Linked DNA regions of Homo sapiens: region 1 is linked to region 2. Evidence: fine-mapped expression QTL. A gene starts in region 2. The other region holds a variant in brackets. All regions are shown on one strand. Distances are between the middles of the regions. Region 1 overlaps EXD3 (exonuclease 3'-5' domain containing 3). Region 2 holds the start of EXD3 (exonuclease 3'-5' domain containing 3).

Evidence for each region. PIP is the estimated chance that this variant, and not a neighbour inherited with it, causes the effect.
Region 1: its variant is fine-mapped to the expression of EXD3 in lung (TOPMed, PIP 0.96).

What each region holds. Positions count from the first base shown.
Region 1 is chr9:137,382,330-137,390,648 of GRCh38, forward strand. EXD3 (exonuclease 3'-5' domain containing 3) reads right to left here. Exons shown (of 22, transcript NM_017820.5): 3 at 984-1,048. Among named protein-coding and RNA genes, the nearest start is that of EXD3, 37 kb to the right of the region's middle. The variant T/C (reference allele first, on the strand shown) is at 5,207.
Region 2 is chr9:137,418,363-137,426,681 of GRCh38, forward strand. EXD3 (exonuclease 3'-5' domain containing 3) reads right to left here and starts at 4,800. Exons shown (of 22, transcript NM_017820.5): 1 at 4,752-4,800. It overlaps NOXA1 (NADPH oxidase activator 1), which reads left to right and starts at 5,031. Exons shown (of 14, transcript NM_001256067.2): 1 at 5,031-5,344; 2 at 7,886-7,968. The coding sequence starts at 5,168. It also overlaps the pseudogene LOC124902354. RefSeq lists silencers at 4,392-4,531, 4,542-4,681, 4,702-5,261.

The DNA of each region.
Region 1 (8,319 bases), 36 kb before region 2:
AATGTCAGGACATAGGGAGGAAAGGACAGTGGAATCCCACAACTCAGACACGTGGGGGGCGGGGGGCAGAGGGCGGGACCCGGGGAGGCTCACACCACACACGCAGGTGCCAAAGAGCGAGGAAGACTGAGCGTCACAGACGAAGGTCCGACAAGAGAGCCTGGAAATGGAACGGCAGAGGGAAATCTCAAAAGCAAGGACAGAGATTCACAAGCTGGAGGCCCAAGAAGCCACCGAGCTGATGGACAAACGAAAGCTGGCAGAGGTGGGTGCAGGAGAGAGGCAGACACAGGAGCAGGCAGCGCCAGGGCTGGGGTCAGAGGGCATCCCCCGGGCCTGCAGGGGTGACCTCAGGCCAGTGGATGTGGCACTCAGAGGAGCTGGGCTGGGGTTGGAGGGCGTCCCCCGGACCTGCAGGAGCGACCTCGGGCCAGAGGACGCGGCACTCAGGACTTGGCAGCTTCCTGTGCACAGGCCATTGCCACTAAGGAGCCGGAATCCGCGTCTGCCCCCACAGGGGGCCGGCCCTCCCTCTGTAGCCTCTCCCCTGGCCTCTCCCGCCCAGCCTCCTGCCCTGCTCAAGTCCCACCCCTTCCTAAGGCCTCCCTGTCCTGGACACCTGCCCCAGTGGCCACCCGGGCCTGGGTGCTCTGGCGGTGGCAGGACGGGGCCTCAGGCCTGGCAGTGCTGGCGACAGCTGTGTCCCTGCAGGTGAGTGGCCCCTGCGCCTCCCAGAGGTGACCTCAGAGGGGCTGCTGGGGCCAGGCAGTGCCTTTACCACCCTGGGGACTTGAGGAGGACCGCCCCCTGCCCCACACAGGCCACCCTGGAGGCGGTCTGGGGCAGCAGCTGTGCAGGACCCTGTGGCCGTGGGGGGCTGTGCAGCTTCCTGACCAGGGAGGCCTCCTGTTAGGCCAGTCTCTGCCCAACAGTCAGTTCTGCTGGCTGTGACTTGGCACGTGGTGGCTGCCACGTCCACTCACCTGCTTCCGCTCCCGCGTGGACCACAGGGTCTGCAGGGCCTGCAGGAGCAGGAGGGGGTCCCGGCCTGTGGAGATAAGATAACAGCCGTGGGAGGGAGAGGCAGGTGCAGGGGCTATCGCACAGCCCGCCGGGAAGTCCCTCCCACTGACCCGCAATGCCTGGGGCTCCTCTGGACCCGGGGGGCCGGGAACCCTCCCCCACCTCTGTCTGGCACACACACAACACACCTGCCAGCTGCGGCAGCACCCACCCTGTTCCTTCCCTGTGGCCCGTGGCCGCCCATCCAGCTGAGTCCGCCCAGCAGCACTTCAACCACGCTCAGCCCTGGGAGCTGGGCCTCATCTTTCAGCTGCAGGTGCAGAGCAGCCCTCGTGGGCCTGAGCCTCTACCTGCTCCGCCTGGCGCCCTCGGCAACCTCATCAGCATCTTCTCACCCAAACCCTGCACCGCAGTCCTGGCACCACGAGGACCCCAAGCCCCTGCCCTCTTTAGGTTTCGGTCCCCGGCCCTCCCGCGCCGCCCCCTCCCTCCAGCCCCGCCTGGGAGGCCCCCGACCTCACTGCAGCAAAAGTGCCAACCAAAGACGCTGCCCCACACGGACAGGGCCACCAGAGCGAGACCCGAGGGAGGTTTCCAGACAGAACCCAGGGGCTGCGTGGCTTGGCTTGGAGGCCGGTGGTGCAGGGGAGTGGAGACCCACTCAGGCCTGGTCATGTGGTAGGGTCAGGGTCGGAGGCCAGGGAGGGGCAGGTGCCAGCAGGGACTCCACAGGGGAGGCCTGAGGACAGGAGCCTGGGTGGATTCCGCAGTGAACTCCCCCTGGACCTGGGGGGCTGTGGAAGCTGCTGGGCCCCCCTGCAGGGCAGGACGGGAACAGGGAAGGCCCCGTGTTGCTGCGAGGGAGGCTGAGGACTCACATGAGATCAGATCAGACCTCAGCAGCTGGATTCTGCCACACACGCCAGAGAAGCGTGTGTGACGGGGGTCACCCCAGAGAGCCAGGCTGACTTAACAGGAGAGTCCAAGGTTATGATTCAGCCCAGGACCGGAACGGAGGAGAGAACCACGTGGCCCTTTCGGTAGACACAGAGCAAGTGTTCTAAAATTCAGTTCAGCTCACAATTTAAGAAATAACTCACCTGGGACGGGCAGGGAGCGCCCTGAACTGGGTAAAAGCCATGGGCGAGCGTGAGACGTGGTGCTCAGGGCAGCACGTAAGGATGCCACAGCCCGGCCTGGAGCCGTCCCAAGCAGGTGGCATCCAATGCAGAAGGAAAACAGAAACATCAGGACCGGCCGACAATGTGATTGATTACACAGAAAGCCACGAAGGATCAAAACTACGCCGTTAGAATTAACCAATGGGTTCGGCATCAATGCTCAGCACAAGCCAAAATGAGAAAATCAGCAATAAACAGAAATGGCCATTTCAAAAATCACTTACAACAGCATCAGCAATGTCAGATTCCCTGGGAGAAATGTAACAAAAGCAGCTCATGCAAAACAAAACCCAGCCGGCTGTCATCTCAGCACTTTGGGAGGCCGAGGCAGGTGGATCATTTGAGGTCAGGAGTTCGAGACCAGCCTGGCCAACGTGGTGAGACACTATCTCTACTAAAACTACAAAAGCTAGCTGGGCATGGTGGCGGGTGCCTGTAGTCCCAGCTACTCGGGAGGCTGAGGCAGGAGAACAGCATGAACCCGGGAGGCGGAGGTCGCAGTGAGCCGAGATCGGGCCACTGCACTCCAGCCTGGGCAACAGAGCGAGACTCCGTCTCAGACAAAAACCAAAAAACCATAAAACACCGTGGGGCGCCCAGGCTCCACCATGGCGTCTCTGCAGCCACCTGGGCCTGGGTGGCACAGGCCAGTGTTCCCGTCTGCGCTCAGAACCGTCCCACCATCGTGCACAGTGTGCTGCATACAGAGGCTGAGAACACTCAAATGTCCACTGTAGGAGGACGGAGCAAGTGCATCAGCCCCGGGACGATGCCCAGGTGGGGAGGACGTACCCCACCACGTGGCCATGGCAGGCAGTGTGACTGGCCCCGCATTCTGGGTGCTGCATGCTGGGCATGGCTGGCGATGGGGCCAGGGTGGGCTGGGCGGGGCGTGCTGTGGTGTGTTCACGATCATGTGCCGAGCCGCATCATGTGCTCTGCGTTCCTTCCTACACATGGGTTGCACTTCACAATAAACAAAAGAGACTTTTATTTTGTTATTTAAGTTAATATTTTATTTAGAGACGGAGTCTCACTGTCACCCAGGCTGGAGTGCAGTGCTGTGATCTCGGCTCACTGCAACCTCCACCTCTCAGGTTCGTGATTCTCGTGCCTCAGCCTCCGGAGTAGCTGGGAGTACAGGCGCTCACCGCTACGCCTGGCTAATTTTTGTATTTTTAGTAGAGACGGGTTTTCACCATGTTGGCCAGGCTGGTCTTGAACTCCTGAGCTCAATTGGTCCGTCCACCTCGGCCTCCCAAAGTGCTGGGATGACAGGCGTGAGCCACCGCGCCCAGCCCAGATTTTCTTTTAAAGCAGAGTTTCAGATGCGTGAGATGAGAAGGTTCTGCAGGTGGACGGTGGTGGCAGCTGTGCAGCCACATGAGTGCCCTTAATGCCACTGAGTGTACACAGGAAAGTGGTTAAAATGGTAAATTTCATGTTATGTATATTTCACATATTTTTAAAAGCAGGGTGAAGCTGGGCAAGGTGGCTTACACTTGTAATCCCAGCACTTTGGGAGGCTGAGGTGGGTGGGTCGCTTGAGCCCTGGAGTTTGAGACCAGCCTGGGCAAGACAGCAAGACCCCATCTCTACCAAAATAAATAAAATTAGCTGGGCATGGTGGCGCTCCTGAGGTCCCAGCCACTTGGGAGGCTGGGGTGGGAGCATGGCTGGAGCCTGGGAGGTTGAGGCTGCAGTGAGCCCTGATTGTGCCACTGCCCTCCAGCCTGGGGGACAGAGTGAGAACCTGTCAATCAATCCATCCATCAATAAGCAGGGTGTCCTTATTATTCTTTTTAAGTTCTCCAAATCGAGATCCACCTTTCCAGGTGGGAAGTTGGTGATGCCGGCCCTCCTACTCCCCAGTCAGTGTTGCTGGTCTTTGCCCTGCTCAGGTCCTGCTGGTTCTGCCCTCCAGGTGGGCAGGGTCTGCCCCCTCCCACCGACCTGGGCCACTCCAGATTCCCAGGGGACTCCCTGCCTTGACGCTGTGCCCTCAGACAACACCCAGCCGCGCAACACGGCACAGCCCTAGCATCCTACAGAAATATGGGGCAGGCCAGGCCACTTTATGGACTCCACCGTGGCCCCTCAGCCTTGAGAGTCAAAGCCAGGGCCCACCACATCCTCCCAGCCTCCAACCTCCGTGTACCTGGACCCTGCCCCTTGGGCCTGAGGCTGCTTCTCGAGCACCCAGCAGCCTGCCCGGAAGCCCCCTCAGCACCCCTGCTCCCTGCCTGCCTCCCTCAGCACCCCTGCTCCCTGCCTGGCCCCCTCAGCACACCTGCTCCCTGCCTGCCTCCCTCAGCACCCCTGCTCCCTGCCTGGCCCCCTCAGCACCCCTGCTCCCTGCCTGGCCCCCTCAGCACCCCTGCTCCCTGCCTGCCTCCCTCAGCACCCCTGCTCCCTGCCTGCCTCCCTCAGCACCCCTGCTCCCTGCCTGCCTCCCTCAGCACCCCCGCTCCCTGCCTGGCCCCCTCAGCACCCCTGCTCCCTGCCTGCCTCCCTCAGCACCCCTGCTCCGTGCTTGGCCCCCGGCCCTTGCTTCCTGCCTGGCCCCCGGCCCCTACTCCTTGTCTGCCTCCCTCAGCGCCTCTGTTCCCTGCCTGGCCCTCGGCCCCCGCTCCCTGCCTGGCCCCCGGCCCCTGCCCTTCTGCCCCTGTCGCTTCACTGTGGCCTCAACGCTGAGCCCCAGGGCAGTGACCGCCTGGGTCTCCTTCCAGGCCATGGCCGGTGCACGATGGACACTCCACGGTGCCCGCCCCAGCCATTCCAGGGCCAGCCGTGCACACATGGTGCTCACAGCCCACGCAACTGGGGAGCCCTGGGGAGCCCTGAGTCTCTCGGGCCAGAGCTGGAGGGACCCATGGCAGGTGTGGCGGGACAAGTGTCTGCCGTGCCGGGCTCAGACACGGCCATGCTGACACTCATCCCACACAATTGCTGGCTTCCTGTTCATACAACAGAAGAAAAACAGGATGTCCAGGGGCGGCTTC[T/C]GTCTGAACGAAGAAGACAAGCGAGCTCTGTGAGCCCCAGGGCTCAGCAGTGAGAGGACAGGGTGCCTGGGAGAGCCCTGGGGGACACACCCCACTCAGCACACAGCACCCCACGCACCCCAACTCAGGGATACCACGCAGGGGCACGGGGTCCGAGAAGGGCGGGTGGGGCTTGGAGCTGACACCGAGGGACCTCCCAGACCCGCTCTCCGGCCCCAGAAGCCCCAGCCAGCCCTCCCTGAGGTCGCCTCCTCGTGCAGTAGCTTCTGGGGGCCTTTGGTCCCCAGCGTGGATGTTTGGCCGGAGCTCCGTGGGTGGCCTCTGGCCCCCACCTCCACACCCAGGCCCAAGTTCCCTGAATTCGCCAAGTTCATCAGTGCTGCACCGATGCCTGGGACCTGCAGACAGGCAGGTCTAGGACGCTGAGACAGATGGCCCTGGCCAGGAGGCTGGGCCCTGACCCTGGACCCTGCCCCTTGGAACCATGTGGGTGGGGGCAGAGCGGGGCAGCTGTGTATTAGGAGGACACCTAGAAAAAACTCAAGCTCAAGAATAAAAGTCCCACAGTCCCCCGAATGTGGATTCACATCCAAGAGCTGGGCTGCTTCTCTCTGGGGGGCTGAATCATGGTCCCTGCCCAGCACCAGAGCCTGGTGCCCACACTGGCTTCCCCCCCAGCCACCCTCCCCAAAACGTGCCTGGGAGGGCTCAGGAACTCTGTGGGGTTGGCCTGAGGGTGTCCAGGCAGAGGCGGCCAGGACGGCTCCACCATCTGTCCCCAGGACGGCTCCCCAGCTGACACCCCCGCGCCGGCCGACGGGAGGACGGATGGTTGCAGGGACGCAGGATGGGCAGAACACAGGGACGCCACTTCCTCCAAACGACACCCGGCTAATGGGGCTGCCTTCACCTTGAGACACAGACGCACGCGGGAAACTGTGGGCTGTGGAGTGGGTGGCGCCGAAGGCTCTGTTATTCCCGACACTCTACCATAAAGCGGGGATGAGAAACACAGGGGGCTTTTTATCCACAGGGTTGGGGGCACAGAAGCCCCAGGAACTGAGGCCGACCCCAGCAGCGGGCGCCAGGCAGAGGACACCAGGCAGCGGATGCTGGCAGGGGACACCCGGCCTCCAGGCAGGAAGTCTGTGACGTGGTCTTCACAAAGCCCCCGAGTGGGTCTCCCCGGCAGCTGGCTCTCCTCTTGGGGCCTGGGTCACAAAGCTCACAGCCCGTCTCCAAGGCCGTCCCACACCTGCCAGCAGCATCAGACCCCGCGGCAGTGAGTGTAGAAGAGCCCGGCCGCCCAGACCAGACCCCACGCGCTGTGGTGACCTGCATGTCCACGGGTCCAGGCACCTGCTATCAGCACAGCACCCCGCCTGGGTCAGTCCTCTGACCGCCCACGGACAGCAGAAAGGGCCAGCCCACGGCCTCAGCTCCCCTCAGAGACCCCATGGCACCTCCCGCAGGCGTGTCCTGAGAGGCCACGCCCACCCACCACGCACTGGGGCCTCCGTCCCTCTGCCACGAGTCTGTCTCCTGGTGGCCTTCTGGCGTCCGGGGGCAGCTGAGATGGGGCCACCCCCTCCAGCCCAACCGTCTCTGGTCTCAGATTCCACCCACATCTGCCTGTGCTCAGCTGCAGGCAGGGCGGGGGACGTGATAAGGACAGAGGCGGCAACGAGACCCCAAGCCCGGCGGACAGCGTGTGCCCTCCACCTCGGCTCGCCGCAGAGGACCGCCCGTGTCTGGGGAGTGAGGTGAAGGGGCTCCCGGAGGTCCAGCATCTGGCACGGAGCCCCTTGCTCTATCAACACAGCGGCCCACAACCCCAGCACAGCACCGTCTCTCATCGGTCATGGGTCCCCTCACCCTCAGTCCTACTCACTTGCCTCATCCATGAAGCCGAGGGCCTTGGAGACAGAACCTGACCCAGCCTAAGCCCAAGCTGCCTCTGCTGGGAAAGCGGGATGAGGGGGAGAGCCCACCGTTCGATGCTGTGGACCCCACAAGGAGGCAGAGAGGGAAAGGGCGGTACCAGCTCAGGGGGCATGAGGCGGACGCCACTCAGAGACAGTGAGTACGTCGAGGTGCTGGGACGCTCGGAGCGAGAGGGACAGAGAGGGACAGTGAGACCAGCAAGGAGCTGGGACGCTGGGAGCCAGGTGGATGCATGCAGAGAGGGACAGAGAGATCCCCAAATTTCATTCTGCAACCGCAGGTCAGAAAATCTGCTGAAGAAAAGATCCTACCTACAACAGAAATATTGGAAGATGAAATGCCTATTTTTAAAAAGTAACAGACCCGGCACAGTGGCTCATGCCTGTAATCCCAGCACTTTGGGAGGCCGAGGCGGGCAGATCACCTGAGGTCAGGAGTTCGAGACCAGCCTGGCCAACATGGCGAAACCCCGTCTCTACTAAAAATACAAAAATTACCCAAGCATGGTGGTGGGTGCCTGTAATCCCAGCTACTCAGGAAGCTGAGGCAGGAGAATCACTTGAACCTGGGAGGTGGAGGTTGCAGTGAGCCAAGGTTGCGACATTGCACTCCGGCCTGGGTGACAGAGCGAGACTCTGTCAAAAAAAAAAAAAAAAAAAAAAAAAAAATGGCCGGGCGCGGTGGCTCACACCTGTAATCCCAGCACTTTGGGAGGCTGAGGTGGGCGGATCATGAGGTCAGGAGATCGAGACCATCCTGGCTAACATGGTGAAACCCCATCTCTACTAAAAAAATACAAAAAATTAGCCGGGAGTGGCGGCGGGCACCTGTAGTCCCAGCTACTCGGGAGGCTGAGGCAGGAGAATGGCGTGAACCCGGGAGGCGGAGGTTGTGGTGAGCCGAGATTGTGCCACTGCACTCCAGCCTGGGCGACAGAGCAAGATTCTGTTGCCAAAAAAAAAAAAAAGTAAATAAATAAAAATTACACAAATAAATAAAAACTAAAAAGATAACAGTATGTTCTGGGTGGTTTCACATAAACTAACTCCTTCAATATTCACACAGAAATGAGGCCCGGTATTGGCGTTAGAATCATCATTCAGATGAGAAAACAGGTTAGGCAGCGTGGCCCGGTCACACAGTGAGGAAGATGAGCCCTCTCTGCTGGC
Region 2 (8,319 bases):
ACAAACAAACAAACGTCTGAGTCATTTCTAAGTAAAACACTGAAACATTAATTACTAAGCGTAAGTTTAAGCTTATATACTTTAGTATCTTATTTTTATATGGCATAGGAAAGCTAAATATATTTACATCTGTTAACAAAAAAATTTAGGAGATGCATCTCTGTAAAACATGATGAAATGGTTTCCATCTACACATACAGTTCAAAATTACTCGCTGAGTTTTTAACGGAAAATTAGGGTCACGAAGTTAACACTGTAATTAATATATGTAACTGAAACTACTAAATATAAGAGAAACAATTCTGTACGTGAGATGTATAAGAAAAGCAGAGTTTGTTTTTCTTTTGAACAACATTTCGTGTAGTAATAAGAGATTGTAAAATATTTTTATCTTCTGAGTAAACAGAAAAAAAAAAAGGGGAAAGAGGGAGAGACATTCTGTTTGCCTCACGCTGTCTTTAGTAGGTCTATTGATTGCTTGGGAAACTAAGTCTCCTCTCTGTCATAGTAAAGGTTTTTGGTTTGGGAAATCTCTGAATTACCAATTTGATTAAATGAATGGCTTATTTTACAGTGACCTGTGGTCCTATTTTGAGATTGTTTTAAGCCTCTGATATTTGACTTCCCAAAACCAAATTTCAAGTCCTAACATTAAGGGTTTTTTTCACCTGAACTAACTTGGATATAACAAATAGGAACCCCGAGAAGTCCAAGGGAGATGTACGAGGCTTATGTGGTATGTTAAAATCATACAGGAAGCATTGTCAAATGTGGAATGCTGTTGGAGTTATATTGGTATAAATGTATTATTAACATATGTTCCAAAATTGTATGAGATTCCTAAAAATTCTGACATGTCTTGGTATATGTTATCAGTCGTGATTACGATTATATGTTAAACTGTTTTAACCTCAGAAGTAACCAAATTCCCTGCCAATCGCGTCTTCACCCATGGCTACTCTAAGTCTTTTGTCATCTGCAGAAAATTACTGTTTTACTTTGATTCTTCTCAAAATGCAGTTTAAGGCCGGGCACGGTGGCTCATGCCTGTAATCCCAACACTTCGGGAGGCTGAGGCGGGTGGATCACTTGAGGTCAGGAGTTCGAAACCAGCCAGGCCAATGTGGTAAAACCCCGTTTCTACTAAAAATACAAAATTAGCTGGGCATGGTGGCTCATGCCTGTAATCCCAGTTACTTGGGAGGCTGAGACAGGAGAATCGCTTGAACCTGGGAGGCGGAGGTTGCAGTGAGCCAAGATCGCACCACTACACTCCAGCCTGGGCAACAGAGCGAGACTCCATCTCAAAATAAATAAATAAATAAAATAAAATAAGGTACAGTCCAAAATTTGCATTTTCTTCAAGGAAATTCATGGAAAGGACATTGACAAGTATACAGACTTCCGATAACCTGGGAGATCACACCAGTAGACCAGATAAAAACTTCCAGGACTCTTATTTAAAAGCTGATGCATTCATGAGGATTGTTAACCCAACATCATACAGAAAAAAGCGGCCGGGCGCGGTGGCTCATGCCTGTAATCCCAGCACTTTGGGAGGCCAAGGCGGGCGGATCACGAGGTCAGGAGATCGAGACCATCCTGGCTAATACGGTGAAACCCCATCTCTACTAAAAATACAAAAAAATTAGCCGGGCATGGTGGCAGGTGCCTGTAGTCCCAGCTACTCGGGAGGCTGAGGCTGGTGAATGGCGTGAACCCGGGAGGCGGAGCTGGCAGTGAGCCGAGATTGTACCACTGCACTCCAGCCTGGGCGACAGAGGGAGACTCCGCCTAAAAAAAAAACAAAAAAAACCCCAGCAAATTACATAGAACTGAACTGATAGAGGCCTGAAATGCTTTTTATGATTTTTTGTTGTTATCGAAACCTTGCTGACTCTTTTTATATTTTGTTTTCCAGAGTCAGAAAACCTTTTTCTTTTTGAGCTATTTATAGCTATAGCAATTGAGTGACATATACTTTTGTGAGCAAAACTGAAATATTTGTCTTTTTCTCTACCTGATTTCTCAAAAATCTGGAAGCGATTCATGAGTATTCTTATTTTATGGCAATGTAGTTCTTTGCATGAGTTCAGTAAGAATCTGTTGTCCTTGTAACAGGACACAATTGGAGACCCTGGTTATTCTACCAAGGCTTGGACTGGGATGACGTATTTTTGGATATGACGAGACTGCTTTGAGGAATCGAGGTTCGCTTTATAGAGCCAATAAAAAGCCCCTTGGGATGACTGGACTGGTGCCCTGTTTACATAGTTCCCTTAAAAGGTTCTTGGCCTTGAGGTAAGGAAAGAATGTCACTTTCCGACAGATCCAGGAACTTCAAGATAGTTTGGGACCTGGAGGACAGACATTCACCCCCCCCCCCAAATTCATACAGGTATTATACATACACTGTGATGGGGAGCCACTGGCTTGGCTTCCTAGACATGGGAAGTGTTTGTTTTGTTTAGAGACAGGGTCTCGCTCTGTCACCCAGGCTGGAGTGCAGTGGTGCGATCATAGCTCACTGCAGCCTCAATCTCCTGGACTCAAGCGATCCTCCCATTTCAGCCTCCTGAGTAGCTGGGACTACAGGTGAGCACCACTATGCCCAGGTAATTTTTAAATTTTTTGTGGAGACAGGGACCTCGCTATGTTGCCCAGGTTGGTCTCAAACTCCTGGGCTCAATGAATCCTCCCACCTTGGCCTCCCAAAGTGCTGGGATTACAGGCATGAGCCACCATGCCCAGCCCTCAAGTGGCTTTTAAAGGTCTATTCTGACCCTCTTGTAGTTCATAAGCATGATGATTGCCTCATGTGTAGGGTCTGTCTCCTTCAAACGCTGTTATGACGCCAGCACATTACCTGTCTGATGTGGGGAAAAAAAGTCTGAAATTCCTTATGGCAAAGTTCCAGCCAGTTTAGAAAGGAGCCTATATGGCCAATCACCACTGTTGTACTTTAGGCAAATAATCAGGCCAAATATAATCCTAAAATTTATTTTACAAGTAAATTGGTCTTACCAAGATTTATCTTTGGTAGAAATGGGGAAGTAGAGAAAAATTATGTTTCAGAGAAAAACTACAGCATACCTGTTACTGGATTCTAGCCCTGATCATTGTATTTTTTATTTTCCTACAATCTGGACTAAATCCTGAACAATCTTCTGGCTACAAGTCTCAAAGAAGAACCTGGCTGGGCAGAGGTTCACACCTATAACCCCAGCACTTTGGGAGGCCCAGATGAGAGGATCACTTGGGCTCAGGAGTTCGAGACTAGCCTGGGCAAGGTGTCAAGACCTAGTCTCTACCAAAAAAATTTAAAATTAGCCGGTCCTGGTGGCAAACACCTGTATTCCCAGGTACTCAGGAGGCTAAGACAAGAGGATCATTTAAGCCCAAGAGTTCAAGGCTGCGATGAGTGGGAATCGTGCCTCTGCACTCCAGCATGGGTGACAGAGCAAGACCCCATTTCTAAGTAAACAAATAAATAAAAAGAAAGAAGAACATGGATTTTAGTTTCTTCATGTTTTTAGTTGTCTCCCTAATGGAACAGGTTTGTTTTTTTCATCCTGGCATACAAATTGGTTATAGTCCTATGTGTTACTTCTGAGAAAATTAAAATTAATGGTGTTTCTAAAAACTAGAGATGATTCAACAGGTGACAGCAGTTGTATAAATTAATGACTTCACTGAGACCTCATGTTTGCCACCCTGTAATGCCATTCCAATTCAGTTTGTGGTGTTCTTAAAAAAAAAAAAAAAAAAAAAACTCCCTGAAATGTCTCCTCCTTCCCTGCTTGGCATGGGACAGGACTATGTGGGAATGAGCCTTCCCAGCAAGAGGGGACACTCTGACCCTCAGATTTTGATAATCAATGCTTTCAAGAAGAAAGATTTTGATCAAAAGGGGGGCAAATGAGAAAGAAAAAAATCATTTATCTGAGGAATGTAAAGCCCTTTTAAACTGTGGGCCCAGAAAGCTTGATGTTAAGTGCCAGAAAGCATTTCAAATGAAACCGCAGCCCCTCACTACCCCTCGAGCCAAGTAACTATCCACTGATGACACCAAGCCGTGGTCAATCGCGAACCAATGCCATTTCTACAAGCCAGTGAGCTCCTGGGCAACGTTCGAAACCACCTGCTCTCCGATGGGCTCTGTTTTCTTTAAAAACCTGAGCCTCTGTTTTGTTCTCCGTTGCACCTGGTGACCCAGGCCGCCCTCGACCTCTGTGCCTGAATAAACCCACCGGGCACCACATTCTGACCCTTTTAATTATTTTAGGTTGACAACTAATACAGGACTCAGCGCCGGTGGACAGGAAGCCAGGGCCCCTGCAGGGAGGCGCCCGTCCCTTCTCCCGGGGAGGGCAGGGCGGGCGCGCGCGCGTCCCACCGGGAGCGCCTCCTCCTCGGCGAGGGAGCGAAGGGCCTCCGGGTCCTGTGATGTCCGTGCTCGGAAGGCGCGGAGGAGGGCAGGCCCTGCGGGACAGGGCGGCGGGGTCGCCGGGGTCGGCTCAGCTCCCCGCGGCGTCCGGCTGCTCGGCGGCCTCCGGAGCGGGGCCCTGCGGGAGAACGCACCTTCCCCGCCCCATCGGGGCCTCAGTTTCCCCACCCCGGGAGAGCCGGCGGCCCGCCCCCGGCTCACTCCCAGCTACGGCCCTCACCTCAGGACGCGCACCCGGCCCGGCCCCGCTCTGCCCCCGGCGCCCAGACCGCCCACCTGGCCCGCGCGGCCCGGGGTCGCTCACCTGCGGGGCCGGGACCGCCCCACACCGTCCACGCCCGGCGCGGAACCTTGGCCCGACCGCAGCCGCTGGCCCGGAGGGCTTTATCCGGCGCACCAAGGCCAGCGCGGGCGGGGCGAGGAAGCCGGGCGCACAAAGCTCCCGGCGGAAGTCCGGCCGGGGCGGGGGCCGAATGGGAGGTGGGCGAGGCCTGAGGGTCTGGAGTGGGCGTAGCCGTTTCTGGCGGGGGCGTGGCCTTACCGGGGAGGGGCGGGCGCCTGCCGCCAGGGGGCGCCGCGGGGCAGCGGGGTTGCACCTGGCGCTTGGCGCCCGCACCTCTGCCCGCCTCGGAGACCCCGCAGCCCCGCGCCGCCGCCTGGCCCCGGCCCCGGCCCCTCCGCGGGATCCTGGCCCCTCCTCGAGCGCCGCCACCGGCCGCCATGGCCTCTCTGGGGGACCTGGTGCGCGCCTGGCACCTGGGCGCGCAGGCTGTGGATCGTGGGGACTGGGCCCGCGCCTTGCACCTCTTCTCGGGCGTCCCGGCGCCGCCCGCCAGGCTGTGCTTCAACGCGGGCTGCGTGCACCTGCTGGCCGGGGACCCCGAGGCCGCGCTGCGGGTGAGCGGGGCGTGGGGAGGCCGGTGCGGGCGACGCCTCCGCCTCGAGCCCCTGGGGAGGGCCCAGCGCCCCTCCCCGACCGTCACGGGGTCGCCCTGCCGCCCCCGACCCAGCGAACGCCCCGGCAGGTGGGAGCCGAGCAGGGGGGCCGCACCTGAGCTAAGCGAGGCCGCGCTGGGGGGCGCGGCGGTCACCGGGAGAGGCCGGGGCCCGAGGGTGACTCACACCGGGAAGGGGGAAGCTGCTGGGCTGGGTCAGGCCCGAGGGACCGCCCTGCCCTAAGGGGAAAGCGTTGCGCCTGTGGTCATGGCCGGGAGACCGGGTCAGTCTCCTCCTCAGAGCCCTCAGCCCTCCCCCAGCCCACTCCCCGAAACAGCCAGGAGTCCAGGGTGCCAGGGTGCAGCGGCCGAGGCCCTGCACGGAGCCCGGTGCCCTTCTCGTGCCCCCTCGCGTTCCGGGGCCGCCTGTTCCTGCGCATCCCAAACGCCAGCGCTGCCCACCCCCGCTCAGTCCCAAGCACCCCGCAGAAGCAGGCAGGTGCCCACGGTTACTGAAGGCTCGGTGACAGCAGTGATTTAAAGGAGAGGGAACTGCGCGCTGTGGGAGGGTCTCCACGCCCCTGACTGGCAAAATATCCCCCTTGGAGGAGACTGGGCAAAGCGCATGAGACCCCCCTCTCTTGTGTCTTAAAGCTGCGTACAAATTTACAATCACCTCCATAATGATTTCATTTTTTTGTTTGTTTCAAAGATGGAGTCTCGTTCTGTCACCCAGGCTGAATGGAGTGCCGTGGCCCAATCTTGGCTCACTGCAACCTCTGCCTCCCGGGTTCAAGCAATTCTCCTGCCTCAGCCTCCCTAGTTGCTGGGAGTACAGGCGCCCACTACCACGCCTGGCTAATTTAGTATTTTTAGTAGAAACGGGTTTCACCATGTTGGTCAGGCTGGTCTTGAACTCCTGACCTCAGGTGATCCACCCTCCTCGGCCACCCATAGTGGTGGGATTACACATGTGAGCCACCTTGTCCGGCCCACAATGATTTCATTTTAAAATGTTATCCAAGAAAGGGAATGTAATCTTTAGACACCAGGTGGTTCAGCAACAAATCCTATGTCCGGGGCTAACCCAGTCACTTGTGCTCTTGTGCCTGGTTTCACTACAGAGAGGGGACGCAGTGAAAGTCATACGACTAACCCACAGCATATGCATGTTAGGAATATGGGAACTTAGGAAAGCAGATGGAACAGCTATGATTCATAAAGCCGATCACGTGAGGGGCAGCCCAGGGTGCAGAGGGTGTCGCTGGAACTGCTGTCTCTTGTTAGGAGCCTTGCGTGACGTTTGGGGCAGACAGGTGGGTTCTGCTGGCCCTGAGCCGCCACCCCACATCAGGGCTGCGTGCCTGTGCTCAGCCGCCACACTTCACACCTGTGTGAACTTGGTTCAACGACAAGCCCCCACTCAGCCAGATTTGTGAAAGAGACCGTAGCACCCTTCCTGTCACACACATTTAACTGATGGCCACGGTCCCTGTTCAGAACCTTCTGTGTCCTCCTGAGTCTGGTTTAAGGAAGAGCTGTGCTTTACACACAGATAAACACATGAAGACGTGTGTTGTTCTTTCTGATTCTAATAGATTTCTAGGGTGTCATTTTGCATGAACTATCAAAAAAGGATTTTTATTTTATTTATTTTTTGAGACGGAATCTCGCTCTGTCTTGCAGGCTGGAGTGCAGTGGTGCGATCTTGGCTCACTGCAACCTCTACCTCCCGGGTTCAAGCGATTCTCCTGCCTCAACCTCCCGAGTAGCTGGGACTACAGGCGCGTGCCGCCATGCCCAGCTAATTTTTGTATTTTTAGTAGAGATGGGGTTTCACCATGTTGGCCAGGCTGGTCTCAAACTCCTGACCTCAGGTGATCCGCCCACCTCAGCTTCCCAACATGCTAGGATTACAGGCGTGAGCTAACATGCCCGGCCTGTAATGCAGTTCTTTAGCTGCTGACTCTGGGATCTGGACTGCGTTATCTCGTCTCCAGTATGTGACAGCCAAGGTTGCCTGAGGTCAGGAGTTTGAGAATGTCTTGAACCCAGAGGCGGAGGCAGCAGTGAGCCAAGATCGAGCCACTGCACTCCAGCCTGGGTGACAGAGCGAGACCCCGTCTCAAAAAAAAAAAAAAGGATTTTTAAAAGACAAAAATCTTGCATAACCCCACTCCCCAGAGGTAACTATTATTAACATACTGGAACACTTTTTTCTGGCCTCTGTCCTTGTGCTCATGGTAAACACATTGGTTTTAGCAGCACCTCAGTGGGCTCTGCGCCTTGGACGGGTTGGGGTTGGGTGGGCTGTGGCAACCTGAGTGGCGACAGCCCTGCCCAGGCAGGGGCTCCGAAGGTTCCTGGACAGGAGCAGGAGGGGCTGTGGGGGGTCCCCAGGGGCTGACGGAATTCCGTGGCCCTGTCACCCATCACGCTGTATCTGTGATGCTGCGTGACCAGGTTACAGACCTTGGCATCCCGTGGGCATTTTTGTCCCCAGGCATTTGACCAAGCCGTGACCAAGGACACCTGCATGGCGGTTGGCTTCTTCCAGCGAGGAGTGGCCAACTTCCAGCTGGCAAGGTGAGTACAGGGGTGCCTTGTTCCTTCTCTGACGGCCCTTTGTCTCCCTGCAGAGTCCACTCCTGCACCTCCTCCTCCTCCCTCTCCATCCACTCCCTCCTCTTGCCCACCCCCTCCTCCATGGTTCCTGGCTCCAGGGAAACCTGAGACTGTGGCCCTCGCCTCTGCTGAGCGCCACCCTTGGACACAGGTCGTGGGGTCCTCACTGCTTACCTGGGCTCTCTGCACCATGTCCCTTCCTAAAGGAGGAATGAGGGAAAGGAGACCATCGGGACTGCAGACCAGGCCATGCCTCGGCCTCTCTGCTAGACACTCACAGGCCCCATCCCAGGAGGGCAGGCTCTGTGGGGA